4 linked regions of the Homo sapiens genome follow. The protein of the gene in region 2 purifies or fractionates together with the protein of the main gene of each other region. This does not show direct contact. Each region holds a gene or a part of one and is shown on either strand. Other genes may lie near its edges.

What was found.
Region 1: the proteins of RAB2B (region 2) and MTHFD2L purify together in Homo sapiens (affinity purification with mass spectrometry; one large-scale study listed by BioGRID and IntAct). This does not show direct contact.
Region 3: the proteins of RAB2B (region 2) and USP46 purify together in Homo sapiens (co-immunoprecipitation; one large-scale study listed by IntAct). This does not show direct contact.
Region 4: the proteins of RAB2B (region 2) and SCARB2 purify together in Homo sapiens (co-immunoprecipitation; 2 studies listed by BioGRID and IntAct, with this or other methods). This does not show direct contact.

The regions. Positions count from the first base shown.
Region 1 is NC_000004.12:74,156,639-74,160,938, forward strand, and holds the start of MTHFD2L (bifunctional methylenetetrahydrofolate dehydrogenase/cyclohydrolase 2, mitochondrial), read left to right. Parts: upstream 1-1,500; coding exon 1,501-1,643; intron 1,644-3,416; coding exon of another isoform or gene 3,417-3,510; exon of another isoform or gene 3,511-4,300. UniProt on the Homo sapiens protein: Bifunctional mitochondrial folate-interconverting enzyme that has both NAD/NADP-dependent methylenetetrahydrofolate dehydrogenase and methenyltetrahydrofolate cyclohydrolase activities.
Region 2 is NC_000014.9:21,466,960-21,470,459, reverse strand, and holds part of RAB2B (ras-related protein Rab-2B), read left to right. Parts: intron 1-1,243; exon of another isoform or gene 1,244-1,251; coding exon of another isoform or gene 1,252-1,274; intron 1,275-1,280; exon of another isoform or gene 1,281-1,367; coding exon of another isoform or gene 1,368-1,418; intron 1,419-1,707; coding exon 1,708-1,790; intron 1,791-2,010; coding exon 2,011-2,103; intron 2,104-3,500. UniProt on the Homo sapiens protein: The small GTPases Rab are key regulators of intracellular membrane trafficking, from the formation of transport vesicles to their fusion with membranes. Rabs cycle between active GTP-bound and inactive GDP-bound states.
Region 3 is NC_000004.12:52,603,802-52,607,301, forward strand, and holds part of USP46 (ubiquitin carboxyl-terminal hydrolase 46), read right to left. Parts: intron 784-3,500; coding exon 700-783; intron 1-699. UniProt on the Homo sapiens protein: Deubiquitinating enzyme that plays a role in behavior, possibly by regulating GABA action. May act by mediating the deubiquitination of GAD1/GAD67.
Region 4 is NC_000004.12:76,168,825-76,172,324, forward strand, and holds part of SCARB2 (lysosome membrane protein 2), read right to left. Parts: intron 1,162-3,500; coding exon 1,043-1,161; intron 1-1,042.

The DNA.
Region 1 (4,300 bases), on a different chromosome or scaffold from region 2:
TCCAAAGTGACTGAATCATTTTTTTATTCACCAACAATGAATGAGAGTTCCTGTTGCCACACATCCTTGCCAGCATTTCGTATTATCAATTTTTTGGACTTCAGCGGTTCTAATGGGAGTGTAGTGGTATCTCACTGTTGTTTTAATTTGTATTTCCTTAATGATAAATGATATTGAATATTTTTCCATTTTTTTTGACCTCTGTATGCCTTTTTTGGTGGGTGTTTTCAGATCTTTTGCTCACTTTTAACTGAGTTGCTTTTCTTTTTTCTTTAATTGTTGAGTTTCAAGAGTTCTTCGTATATTTTGGGTGTAAGTCTTGTAAAAATGTTTTGCGAATATTTTCTCCCAGTATGTGATTTGTTTCTTTATTAACAGTGTCTTTTGCATGGCAGAAGTTTAAATTGTTTTTTTCTTTTATGAATTGTGATTTAAGTGTTTTATCTAAAGTCTCATTGCCAAACCCAAGGTCACCTAGATTTTTTCCTGTATTTTCTTCTAGGCTGCTTATTTGTGTCAAATGGATTTAGATCAGCCAGGAAAGAGTAGGGTATCCCATTCTTATTGATATGATTTTAAAGAGCATATTTTCTGACAGTCTATGATTTTAAAAAACAAGTTTTCTCAGTAAAAGTGCAGCTATGAAAGACGTTGTTCTGACTCAACAGCAGCAGCCTGACCTTGGGAGAAAAGTTGTTTCCTGTTAACTTCCCAGCTGGTTTTATCTGTGACTGTTTTTTGTGTGTCTGTCTTAATTTGCAAAATGAATGGACAGTCTAATGTTTTACTTTTTCAGAGGGAGCAGATATTTTGCTTCCTCACCACACAAGCTCACCACACAATGCAGGGTTCTTAGCCTGCATCGACTTGATCATAACTCAGGAAAAGACAGATATTGGTCAATATTTCCTTCCAAAAGTGGAGATGATAAAGTAGAAGTATAGAAATCCTAAAGTCCAGACCTTCCTTGTTCAGCCAGGTTTTGCTCCTTCTCCACACACCTTTGTTCTTTTCTCCAACTTCCAAGGAATCTCACAAAGGAAGTGGGAAACAATGAACCTATTACTTCTTTCCTGCTTTAAATCCAATTCCACGTAGTCACGGAGACTGTTGGGCAGGATCTCTGGCTTGGTGGAAAGTGGGGCGTGCTGCCTAAAGTGATAGTTTGGAGGCCTTCTCTGTGCCGTCGCTATGGGAATGCCAGCTATATGTTGGCTGGGTGCGGGGCCCAGTCGCCAGGCCACACTGCACGCTTCCACATCCTCAGAGGGCCCGGGACTTGGGTCCTGGCCCCGCCCCCTGCGGACCCGGCACTCTGTCAGTTCCGTCCCCGGTCCTGGGAACCGCTCTTTACCCCACTCTGCGTGTCTGCCGGAACCTGGCTGGGAAGCGCTACTTGCTGCCCTGCCAGCCCGGGTGAGGGCGGAGCCAGGCCTCCAGCCGCGAGGACTGGAGTCGCGGGAGGTGGAGCCCCAGTCCGGAAGCCGGGGATCCGCGGCCATGACGGTGCCGGTCCGCGGCTTCTCGCTGCTCCGCGGCCGCCTTGGCCGAGCGCCGGCGTTGGGCAGAAGCACAGCACCCTCCGTAAGGGCACCGGGAGAGCCCGGGAGTGCGTTCCGGGGCTTTCGGAGCAGCGGTGTGAGGTACGAGGGCTGCGGGCGCCGGGTGCGGAGCCGCTGGCGGTGGGAGGTCGGCGGGGGCGCGGGCGGCGCTCGCGCGCGTGGGGCCCAAGGCTCGTGGGCGGCCGCGCGGCGGCGGGCTGGGTCGAGGACAGCCTTGTCTGTGAGGTGGCCTTGCCGGTCGCGCGGGCGAGTCGCAGTTGCCTCAGCTTGGGGAACGAAAACGTGCTCTGCTCTGGGCTCTCGCACCAGAATGTTCCATCTTTGCAGCAGGTGCACTTGATTTAGGAAGACATTTGAGGCACTAAGAAAAGGTAGTATAAAAACACGTGGTCGGCTTGGTCAAACATTTGTTTTTACTTTGGTTATTTTAGTGTTTCGTAAATAAAGGAGTAGGCGTTGTGCAGATGACTTACTAATGTTTGCGTTTCTGAATTCCTTTGTTAATAGTGTTGTCTAAGTCTTTTCCAACTCTAAAATTATTTATGGTTTCACAAAACCAAATATCAATCCAGATTTCTCAGTCTTTTCATGTATGGCTCTCCCTCCCTAAACCTCTGTCAGGTGATGAGACTTAGATTCATTACATGTCTTGGTTGCTGGCAAGAACCATGCAAATACAACAGGGTACGCACTCTTCTATCTTATGCTTTACCAGTCTTAGTTGCAAAATCCGTCTTAACAAGATGAAAATATATCTTCTTGACCCAGAGCTTGTGAGTCCAGAAGAGCCTCTGTTTTCAGACTTTCAGGGCTTCCAGAAATGCGCTTTCATTGCCATTTTACGTCCAAAATTGTGTCTCACTCGAGTTTTTGTATCCGCCAGTGCCCAGCACAATCCCTAGAAAAGCAATGACTGGTAACGTGGAAACTTAGATACTGTTTATTTAATTTAAATCAGTTAACTCCCTATTGTGTACATTTAGATCTTAGTCTCGAGTGTCTGAATTTAAAAATTACTTCCTATAGGATTTGCTTTGGACATAATTTCTTGTGACTAGGTCTTCCACAAGGATATGTGAGAAAATAACAGTGAATCAGAGTTGTGTAAGCTGTAGTAGGTTGGGTAAGAATGTTCCACTTAGTTTGGAACTACCAGCTAGATCTACTACCTAGGAAAAGCAGATTCTGTAGAATTCTATTTGTTTTAAAGAATTGAGGAAATTATTTGCCGTCACTCTAAATTACTTGTTTGTATCATTATTTTTTGAATTTCAGTTGTTTTAGGGGTGCTTTTCAGGGTGAGGATAACTTGTTTCAAATAGTACAACTTGATTAATTTCCCTGTCAGCTTGCTGTAAACAACTCCATCTCCCCATCTTCTCCATGACCTGCATACATTGAATGGAAGTCATTACAAACAACAGTTACAACCCCAAAATTTGGTTGTAGCCCCTTGCTTTGTACACACACACCAACTCATGTAGAATTCAAAACTTTTAAGTTACACATAATGACCTCTTTATAATTTAAAATAGTTGAGTGCAAAGGTTTTGGAAAGCTATTATCCCTATGCACTGTAAGAGTTACTAATTTCAGCCCGGCTGCTTTCAGTTCCACTTGATGCAGATTATAGTTATAAAAAAAGTAATATATTTTGATAGTTTTTATTTTTTAAAGAGGGCACTAGGCAAGTTAAGATAAGGCGGGGGTTTTGACGCCCTCTTTGTACTGAATACCATCTCTGAAGGTGAGGTTGGCCCCAAGGTTGAGAAACACCTGTGGACTGGTGGGTCTCGGGTGGGGAGGAATTCGGACAGTGTGTTGATGCTTATTGGTGTCTCTTTTCTCTTCTAGGACCAGCAGAGAGAAGAGATTCCATCTTCCAGAGGTTGCCACTGTCTGCCTCCCCACTTGTCCCCATCCACAGTCATCTTTTTTATATATATAATGACACATTAGTTGTCTAGTTCTTCATAGTTAATGTGGTTTAAGTCTGACATCTTTTCTTTTGCCATGAAATTTACACCTTAGTGTTATTCTCACTGAAAATTGCCTTTGAGTTTGATAAACTCTTATCCCAGTGATATTGACTGTTTTAAATTAACAGATTTATCACCATTTCTGAGCTGTGTAGGGCCTTAATTGAAAAAGTATCTTTGATTATTTTTTCACATTTTGGCCACATGCCTATAATAATGGAATATTTACAGTACTTTTTAGTGGAGAACTTTTTTAAGTAGAATTTCAATAATTAATGTTTGATGGAGTTTGGAAGTTACCGTATTTTGAAGTATCGTTTAACATTCTTCTCTCAATGAGTTTTCCTTTAAAATTTGCAGTGAATTTGTTTTCCTGTTTATGCATGAGAATTTAGGTCTTATTAATTGGGGGAAATTAATGTTAAAGTAATAAATAAGCCCTTGTTGCAGCTTATTGTTTCTTGAAATGAATTAACTATCCAGGCAAAAGGTTAAAAATGAAAAAAAAAGTCTTTGTAACTAAATTTTTCCCATTTTGTTGTGGTATTTGAGGAGTTTACAAATCAAAATGTCCTGGGTTAAAAGGCATCACATGAGTTTGTGCCCATTGCTTTTCAGTGTGAGGAGTCTGATAGCAGCCCATCCCATTTGGGTGGGAAGGTTATAGACCTTGCACATTAATGCCATGCTCAAAGCAGATTTGCAGGTATCCTGCAACACAGGGACTTTCACAAAACCCGCTTTGGCTTATTCTACCTG
Region 2 (3,500 bases):
GAGTTAGTATACTGGAATTCTCTTCTCACCTACAAACCCCAGTTTAGGTTATATGATATAGTGGCTAAGAGGACAAGTTTTTGTCCTAGGAAGTACTAAGATCCTAAGTTTAAATTATGGCTCTAGCACTTAATAAGCTTTATGATTTGGGGCCGTTTATTAAACTTGTGTGAGCCTCATTTTCCCCATTTTTAAAAGGAAATAATAAGCCAGGCACGGTGGCTCATGCCTGTAATCCCAGCACTTTGGGAGGCCGAGGCGGGTGGGTCATGAGGTCAGGAGTTCAAGACCAGCCTAGCCAACATAGTGAAAACCCATCTCTACCAAAAATACAAAAAAATTAGCCAGGCATGGTGGTGGGCGCCTGTAATCCCAGCTAATTGGGAGGCTGAAGCAAGGAGAATTGCTTGAACCTGGGAGGCGGAGGTTGCAGTGAGCCAAGATTGCGCCACTGCACTCCAGCCCGGGCAACAGAGCGAGACTCCCTCTCAAAAAAAAAAAGAAAAAAAAAAAGGGAATAATAATATCGGCCCCAGGGTTGCTAAGAGAAGTAAATGAAATAATATATGTAATTGTCTCTTAAAGTTCGTAGCACATTTTATATGCCAAAAAGTAGTTTATAGTACTATTGCAGTGTTATAATTAGTGTTACCACTGTTACTGGTATTATACTATGAGAAAGCCATTTATTTTCCCACATCCTTAATCATGATTCTCCCATTTGTAACCTATAAATTATAGTCTTACCTCCTGTTATGTAGGGATGTAAGGATAAATTATTTCAAGAATGTGAAAACTTTCTTAATAGGATAGATTCAATGTACAGGGTATTCATATTATTTAAAAAATGTTTTTGTTTTCCCTAAAGGAAAAAAAAAGAACTAGTCCATCAAGAAAGCAAAAGTACCCAGTATTATGGGGGCATTAATAAATTACTCAGTTTTAAATAGAACTTAATATCTTTGTCCAACTGGAAATGAGATTAGAGTGTGAACATTTGGATTTTTCTAGGAAAACTCTATGCTGGGCCCTGGGCTTCTTTCTCTGTTTGTTATTCCTATTTCCCATGACAGAAGCCCAGCAAGGGACATCTAGGTAGTCTTGCATTATCAGTGGAACACTAAAGGTCAGTTAGAAGATAATCAGTTGAAGTGCTTTTAATCTAATTTTTATATTGATTCATTGGAATGAAATTTCTATTAGACCAGGTTTTGGCATTCTAAGATAACTTTCCTTTTTACAGATAAAGAAATGGGAACAGAAAGATTAATATGGTGTGTTCAATATCATATTTGGGATTGAAAAAAATGACATACACTCCGTTTCCAGTCCTATTTCCAGTTGTTCTTTTATGAGGATATTGGGAAATGTATGCAAATGTCTTCATCGTCTTTATCGTGCTGACTGGGGTGCCACAGGTATTTAGTGACTGGGATCTAGGATGCTAAACATCCACTAATCTGATGGACAGTCTCTCAGGAAGAGTAAGTGACTGCCCAAAATATCAATGCACTCCCATAGAAAAATATTGATTTCCCACTTGGGTTTCTTCTCGGGCAGGCATGTTTTCTTTCCCTAATTCTCTTTTCGTAATAGAAATTCTTTTTTTAGTTAAGTCCTTTGTATTAGGGTGGCATGTGATCAAGTCGGTTCTGTGGAAATAACCTGGTTTTGTTGGGATTTTTTGTTGCCATGTTGGTGGGAAAGGCTGGGCAAGAATCCTTCCGTTCTATCACCCGTTCCTACTACAGGGGAGCAGCTGGAGCACTGCTGGTGTACGACATTACAAGGTGAGCCAGATCTGGTGCATGGGAGGGAGATTCTTCCCTAAATCCTCTAAAGCTTTTTTTTTTTTTCTATCTACTGATTCTGTTAAGGATGTTAACTAGGAATGGCCTCTCTAATATTTTTCTTTACACGTATGGCTTCCCCTCTTTTCGTATACGCTTGGAGTTGTTTTGGCCTTTTGAAATGTGTCTCTGACCCACATTCTAAATTTTTCTGCTGTAGGCGTGAAACCTTCAACCACCTGACCTCATGGTTAGAGGATGCCCGGCAGCACTCTAGTTCCAACATGGTTATCATGCTCATTGGGAATAAGAGGTAAAATTGTATCCATGTGAATAATAGTTAACAGGAGTCATCTAGGTACTCTATGCACATTGATCCCCAAACTTTCTCAGTTTATAGTGGTCTTAGTGTTTCAGTAAAAAAAAAAAATTTTGTTGTGATAAAATATATATGACACAAAATTTACCATTTTAACTATTTTTAAGCATACAGTCCTGTAGCATTAAGAATATCCATTGTTCCACAGCCATCACCAACATCCATCTCCAGAACTTTTTCATCTTCTCAAACTCTATACACATTCAACACTAACTCTCCATCTTCCCTCCCCCATCCCCCTCATCCCTCAGCCCCTGACAGCCATCATTCTACTTTATGAATTTGACTACTACTGGTACCTCATACAAGTAGACTCATGTAATATTTGTGCTTTTGTGACTGGCTTATTTCACTTAGCATAATGTCTTCGAGGTTTATCCATATTGTAGCATGTGTCAGAATTTCCTTCCTTTTTAAAGATGAGTAATATTCATTGTATGCATATACCACAATATTTTGTTTATCCATCTGTCCATGGACACTTGGGTTGCTGCCATCCTTTGACTATTGTGAATAATGCTGCTATGAACATGGATCTGTTCAAGTCCCAGCTCTGAATTCTTTTGGGTATATGCCCAGAAGTGGGATTGCTGGATCATATGGTAATTCTTTTATTTTTTGAAGAACCACCATACCATTTTCCATAGCAGCTGTCTCATTTTACATTCTTTCCAGCAATGTACAAGGATTCCAGTTTCTCTACATCCTTAACAACACTGGTTATTATCAGTAAATTTTTTTTGACACCCATAGGCCAAAAGAAATACCTAATAGTTTTGTTAAATAGTTATACCCAAACAACATGAGTATTTTTTATAACCGCTTAGTAACTGTTTGAAAATAAAAAGGCCAGGCGCAGTGGCGTATGCCTGTAATCCCAGCTCTGGAAGGATTGCTTGAGTCCATAAGTTCAAGACCAGCCTGGGCAACATAGTGAGACCTTGTTTATACAAAAAAATTTTTAAATGAGGTGGGAGGATCACTTGGGCCTGTGAGGTCGAGGCTGCAATGAAGCTGTAATTGTACCACTGCACTCCTGCCTCAGCAACAGGAGTGAGACCCTATATAAAAAAAAGAAAAAATATGCCAGGCGTGGTGGCTCAAGCCCGTAATCCTAGCACTTTGGGAGGCCGAGGTGGGTAGATTAGAAAGTCAGGAGTTCAAGACCAGCCTGGCCAATATGGTGAAACCCCGTCTGTACTGAAAAAATACAAAAAGTAGCCAGGCGTGGTGGCACGCACCTCTAGTCCCAGCTATTTGGGAGCTTGAGGCAGGAGAATTGCTTGAACTCGGGAGGCGGAGGTTGCAGTGAGCTGAGATAGTGCCACTGC
Region 3 (3,500 bases), on a different chromosome or scaffold from region 2:
AGCCTCCCGAGTAGGTGGGATCATAGGCACCTGGCACCATGCCCAGCTAATTTTTGTGTTTTTAGTAGAGACGGGGTTTCACCATGTTGGCCAGGCTGGTCTCAAACTCCTGACCTCAAATGATCGGCCTGTCTTGGCCTCCCAAAATGCTGGGATTATAGGTGTGAGCCACTGTGCCCAGCCTCTAATCACCTATTCTTATAACTGATGTGTTAATAATTTCCTCATGAGTCCTTATGAAATGATATATATTTTTTAAACCTCTGTCTCTAAATAAGAGGTCCTAATGTTTAAGCAATACAAACAAAAATAATATTGGGTGTCTACTATGTGTTATATACTCTGCTAAGTACTTTATATAATTTACCTTTAATCTCAAGAGAATAGTGATTATATTTAATCATTACTTGTTTATCTAGCATAATATCTGGCACATGGCAGGGCTCAACAAATATTTGCTGAATGACTGAATGAATAAACAAATAAGTAAACAATCGGACAGACAACTCTCCAAGTTGTTCTCTCCAAGGTCAGCGTTCTTATCCCAGTTTCACTGGTGAGGAGGATAACTGACTTCCCCAAGGCTCCATGGCTACAAGCCCAGGTAGCTGAGATTGATTCAAAGCCAACCCTGCTGGGCCCCACAGTCGGGATCCTTCTCACCACACAAAGATAACCCTGAGCTAAATCTTTACCTACCTTTTCTGGGCTTCTTGTTTGCTGCAGCATGTTTCACAATAATATTTTTGTTCACTACACAGTGTTTCTGTGTTGCTGAAGTCTCTGTAGAGGAAAATATTTCCATCTTTAAAAAATGTCCAAATCTACTTGGTATACTATGTTTTAAATCCCTCAATTAACCTGTAGGGTAATTTTTAAGTAAAAATGGAAGAAGAAGTAATCAGAAAAAAATCCTACTTAAGACTAGGATGGTAGAGAAACTACAGGATGAAAAACAAAAATAAGCTAAGACTGGGTGCCATTACGGTGGTAGACATGCTCTTTTCATCGAATCATGAATTTACCATGAGAGATTCAAATATAGTTTTATTTAATGGGACACAGGCAGATATAAATTAGGGTTTCCAACTGGATTCAGAAAAAAAACTCATGATTTAATGGAGAATACCTATAAGCTAGAAATTAAAATCGTAATAGAAAAATACTGTTGAGTAAAAGTTCACCGTAAACACTAAAACTTAGATCCAGAAAGTAAATCACATAACATGCAAGGTGACATTATTGTGTAGTTAATGAAAAATAGTATTTCTCTGGTAGTCCATATTTTCAAAGAGCATGAAAGTAAAGATAATGAAATTTAAACCACATACAAAACTGCCCTCTTAGTGAACTAAAGAAATCCTGAATTAATCAGATGACCACCTCCTACCAACCCCTGCTCCCCACTGCTCCCCCGCCGGAGGAGATGAACTTTTGCCTGCCTCCTTTGGAGAACAAAAGCCATTGTGTTTGTCATATGTGTATCTGCCTTATCATGAGGTTCTACTCTGCTACTTACGGTTTTTATTTTTTAAATGTCATGGTTTTTCATTCTTTTCCAGCCATCAAGATTCTACTTAACATTTCTGTGGTACTGCTTCAAAGGCTGAAAAGAACATCTGGACTAATACCCTATAGTTTTGAAAAATTCTGGGGCATTTCCTTGTTCAGTGTCCTAGTACCATAATGACCAGATTTTATTAAACAGAAAATGTTATTTAAAATGTGTTAAATGATTCTACCACTTACACAGAACACATCAAAAGAAAACACAGATTCTTTCATTCATTAAGTCCCCAAATGTTTCCTGCCAGTCCTCTGGGCTAGGTTCTGGGGATCCACAGAGAATAACTGCCTTCATACGGCTCACACTTTAACAGAGATGTGTGCAAATGAACCACTGACAACATGAAATGATCAGTGCAGCTTCAACAGAAAGCATTACATGATTCCCCTGCTGAAATCCTCCAGCAGTTTCCAGTGCACTTATCCACCCTGCCTCCTTCTCTCTGCTCCAGCCACACTGGCCCTGGGAAATCCTCTTCTCACCTTAGGGTGATTGCAGGTGCTATTTTCTCAGCACTGAGAGCTTCCTCCCAGAGGCTTCCATGGCTGGCTAACCCGGTTGTTCAGCACTCAGCCTAAACATCCCCTCTTTGGAGAAAACTTCTCTGGCCACTTTGTCCAAGCCTATCCAGCCCCTATCACATTGCCGTCTTATTTCTTCCCAGCATCTGAAACCATTCCTCTGTTCATTTGATTACTTGCCTCCCCTCTATGTGGGCAGTGCACTTGTCATTCCTATATCCCCAGCATGACACACAATGGAACACATTAATATTTGTTGGTTGAATGAATGAACCAACCAAGACAGAAGCAGGTGTAAAGTCCAGGAGAAAGCACAGAGAAAGAGGGAAAGTGTGCCAGGTGAACAAGTGAATAAGGGTCAATGACTCCTGAGAGAGAACACTGCAGTGCAGAGGCCTGGAGGTAGGGAACAGCAGCGGTGACGTATTAGTCTGTTCTCATGCTGCTAATAAAGACATACCTGAGACTGGGTAATTTATAAAGAAAAAGAGGTTTAATGAACTCACAGTTTCACATAGCTGGGGAGGCCTCACAATCATGGCAGAAGGCAAAGGAGGAGCAAAGTCATGTCTTACATGGCAGCAGACAAGAGACAGCAGGTGCAGGGGAACTCCCATTTATAAAACCATCAGATCTTGTGAGACTCATTCACTACCACGAGAATAGTATGGGAAAAACTGCTCCCATGATTCAATTATCTCCGCCTGGCCCCACCTTTAACACGTGGGAATTATTACAATCCAATGAGATTTGGGTGCAGACACAGCCAAACCATATCAGGCAGCAAGTCACATAGCCTGGACTATGCTACCAAGAAGCCAGCATGAACCCTAACCAACAGTCTCAACAAAGAAACGACATAATCAGGTAGTGCTTTTTAGAAATTCCACTTTTGACAGCATGGTGGAGGGGGCATTGGAGAGGGATGAAAGGCAAGAAAGCCATTAGAATGCAAATGTACTAAACTTTCAGATTTCAAGTACATGGTGCATAAAACAAACTCATACTTAGCTGAATGAATACTTCAATTGAGTAAGTGCTGTGGAATCTTGTTTTGGCTGCATGGGATTGACTGGAGTGGAACGGGGAGCCAGAGGCAGGGAGATGAGTGTGGGTGTGATGGAGCTTCATATCCTCCCAATGTCTACTGCAGAGAAGCTGTACTACCAAGCTAAAGGGTCACAATAGCCAAAGAAAGGCCAGCAACAAATAAGGAATCATTCATTCCTACTCATTCTTATTTTCCCCAAAAACTTATTTGATTTGTAGACCCAGACAGGTGGAAATATAGCAGAAGTTAATACCTAATGTAAAGACCCATTTTACAAAGAAGCTTGCTGACAGAGTAATGCTCTTAGGGCATCCATGAGTTGAGAATTAGAAAATGAAGGTAAGTTAGGAGAAGGCGAGGA
Region 4 (3,500 bases), on a different chromosome or scaffold from region 2:
CTAAAAGATAGCCTGTCAGGTCTGGATTTCCAGGCAGTTGTCCAGAGAGCTAAGAAGAGGGTGGTGGTCACTGCCAGAGAGTGGCATCCTAGTATAGGGCCCGCCTAGCGTAGCCATGGGGCACAGCTGCAGCACTTGTCATCCTTAGGGCAGCTCCATCTTTGCACTAAGGTTATAAGACTGTGTTCGTCCCTTGGTGACAAGCACTGCTAACAGTTTGGCTGATCCAAGGGAACTGATCAGCTGATGGCTAAGAGAAAAGGGAGAAAACCACACACGATTTTATTCACCAGAGCATAAGATCACTGGTTTCTCAGATACAAATGCAATGTATGCAGCTAAGAGTGTGAAGTACCCATAAAATACTGTGCTAAAAGAATGTTCTTGTTTTTTTTTTTTATTGGTCCATAATGTTCAAATTCCAAAAATGAAGACATGGTTAGCATGGTTTTTGTTTTTCTCGTCTATGAATACAGGAGTAAATGTGTATTATACACACACACACACACACACACACGTGTGTATGTCTCCTCTATGTATATCTGATACCTTTACAATTAATAATATAATAAACTCTCAAATAACCTGTAGAAAGAAGTTTGCCAAAAGTGACTGAGGTTAATATACATATTCATATTTCAACCAAAATATTCCTGGCAGTGAGGAAGCAAAGGGACATCTTTAACCTTATCGATCTGTGTCCCAAGGGGAGAAATAAATATATGTTGAGGTCCAAGGCTAGCATCAGAAGATTGACCAGGTTATATGGGTACATCAGTAGTTTCCAATAACTGAGTTTTCACTGTTGCTTTTTGTTAAAGGCAGGTTTGCTCGTATTTCTGCTATTCAATCCACAAAATTCAGCCTTCTAATTACAGGGCTATGAGACAATGCCTCCATCAGCACTGAGCTGAATTTCTCCCACTTGAATATGTATATGAAAGTAAGGATATTTTTAAAGAAGGCTCAGGACTAAACTGGTGAACAATGTATAGACAGAATAAAACATATGCTCTTTTACCAGGAGGAAGTATGTACTCACAGGATTAATGTCCACAAATGTCTCATGGTCTTCCTGATTTGGGTGCATGCCTTCTATGGCAGAAACAAACCTCTCATCTGCTTGGTAAAAGTGTGGGAAAGACATAATGATGGGTGCACCTGCATTTGAAGGAAAACAGAAATGAATGATGCTGTTTTTAAAATCTAAGCTGAGCTGAATATAAAAGTTCCTGGCCACAGCCTGGTTCCTAAAGAAAAACAAAAAAGCTACATATAAATTAACTTGGGTAGGCTAAAACACCATCCTTTACCTCCTAGTTCAGGATTTATACTTCATTTTCTGACATCTCATTTACCCCCAATTTTTTATTCCACATTATATATTGAAGTTCAGGCTAAATTATTTATTCTTCAACAAATATTTACTGAAGTTAAAGTATAAGTGCTTCATACACATTATTTTATTTAATGCTCCCAACAGCCCAGTAAAGTCAGAACTATTAGCCTCACTTTGCATTTGAAGAAAGTGAGGTTCATAGAAGTTACAAAATTTACCCAGGGACAGCTAGCCATCAGGCTATGAAGGCAGAATACTAAGTGAATGAAGGGTGTTGTACCTCAAAGCACTAGTTTCAACTACAATTCTCTATCAGTAAGTGGACTGACTTTTTATTTCTTGTCCTTTTTAAAATTAAAAAAAAATTTTTGGTGGTTTTTTGTTTTGTTTTGTTTTGTTTTTACCAAAGACAGGCATAATCTCAGCTCACTGCAGCCTCCGCCTCCCAGGTTCAAGCAATTCTCCTGCCTCAGCCTCCCAAGTAGCTGGGACTACAGGCATGCACCACCACACCCGGATAATTTTTTTGTATTTTTAGTAGAGACAGCGTTTCACCATGTTGGCAAGGCTGGTCTTGAACTCCTTACCTCAAGTGATCTGCCCGCCTCAGCCTCCCAAAGTGCTGAGATTACAGGCTTGAGCCACCACACCTGGCCTACATAATTTTTTAAGAGTTAGCCTGGTTGTGCTATACACCCAGCCTCTAACCAGATCACAAAGATTCTGGGGTTTTTCCTTTCCTATTCATTTTAAGAACCAAATAAGTGCTTATGTAAATTTAAATATATATATATATATATATATATATAACCAAATAGGGAAACAAGTTACTAAAGGAAACCTATTCTAGATCTGGCTATTGAAAAGAAGAGAGGGACCCAACAATTGCTGCCAGGGAAATACATTTTTGGAGAAAGGAGCTTGTCGGCAAGTTATTTAAATTTGCTTACATATTCACCAGCCCATGGCTTAAGGAACTCATCCCTCATCTCTCACATGCACATGCATTTTGCTGTTTACTGCTGAATAGTTCCACAAAGGCATGACTTCCTTCTTTGTGACCTATAATGACCTTGAAAATGTATTTTTTAAATCTGTTGAGGGCTTAATAGGGGCTACTGTCCTGAGTGTTTTATATATATTATTTCTAACTCTCACACAACCTCAAGAAGCTATAACCACCTCCATTTTATTAATGAGAAAACTGATGTCTGGAACCCTCCTTAATAAACTTTGGCCAATTTACCAACAAATAGAATAGGACTCAAACCCAATCTGCCTGACTCCAGAACACTCATCCTGCTATCCAAAATGTTTCCCTGGAGAATTCAAAACACTGGAGGATAATCCTGGGGAGTTTCACTTCAGTCCAAATTCGGGAATACGTTAAGAGGGAAGAGGAAAAGGATTGTAGCAAGAAGTTTAAATGTGTAAAGTAGAATACTTCTGTTGATTCTGGCATCAGCTTCTTAAGGAAACAGAATTTAATAAAAACAGCAAGAGAAAATATATCTACATTTTTGCTTTGAGCCAGATGCACACCAGATGAGGGGGCAGGGACACTGTTTCAGGACTATTACCAGTAAGGCAATGGGGGAGATCACAACCAGGAACTTGTTCCCATTCACCCTTGGTCTTTATCTCCAGGTAAAGGGTACCATGTTCCCTTGCACAATGGTCCCCAAATACCTAGACGCCATCTTTATGGAAATCAGCTGGAGTACTTGTTAAAAGTGTAGATTCTGGGGCCCTGGTATATCCAACATGGGACCCTGGGACATACATGCATGTGTGTGCACCATGAGTGTGTGTGCACACTTGCGCACGTGTGTGTGTATACCTATATATATATACTATATACATATATATTAAAATATAGCAAATATAAGTATATGCAAATATATGCATATTTATATATAACTATAAAATTTGTTAATATACTCATATATTAACAAATATATTAACATATACATACATAAATATATACATGTGGCTGTTAAAACTAGTCTTCAAGATGAAAAATACTTTTGTCAGTTGTATATATATATGTATATATACACATATATATGATATACGTATATATAAACAATTTTTTATATATATATAATTTTTTTGTTTTTTGAGACCAGGTCTCACTCTGTTGCCCAGGCTGGAGTGCAGT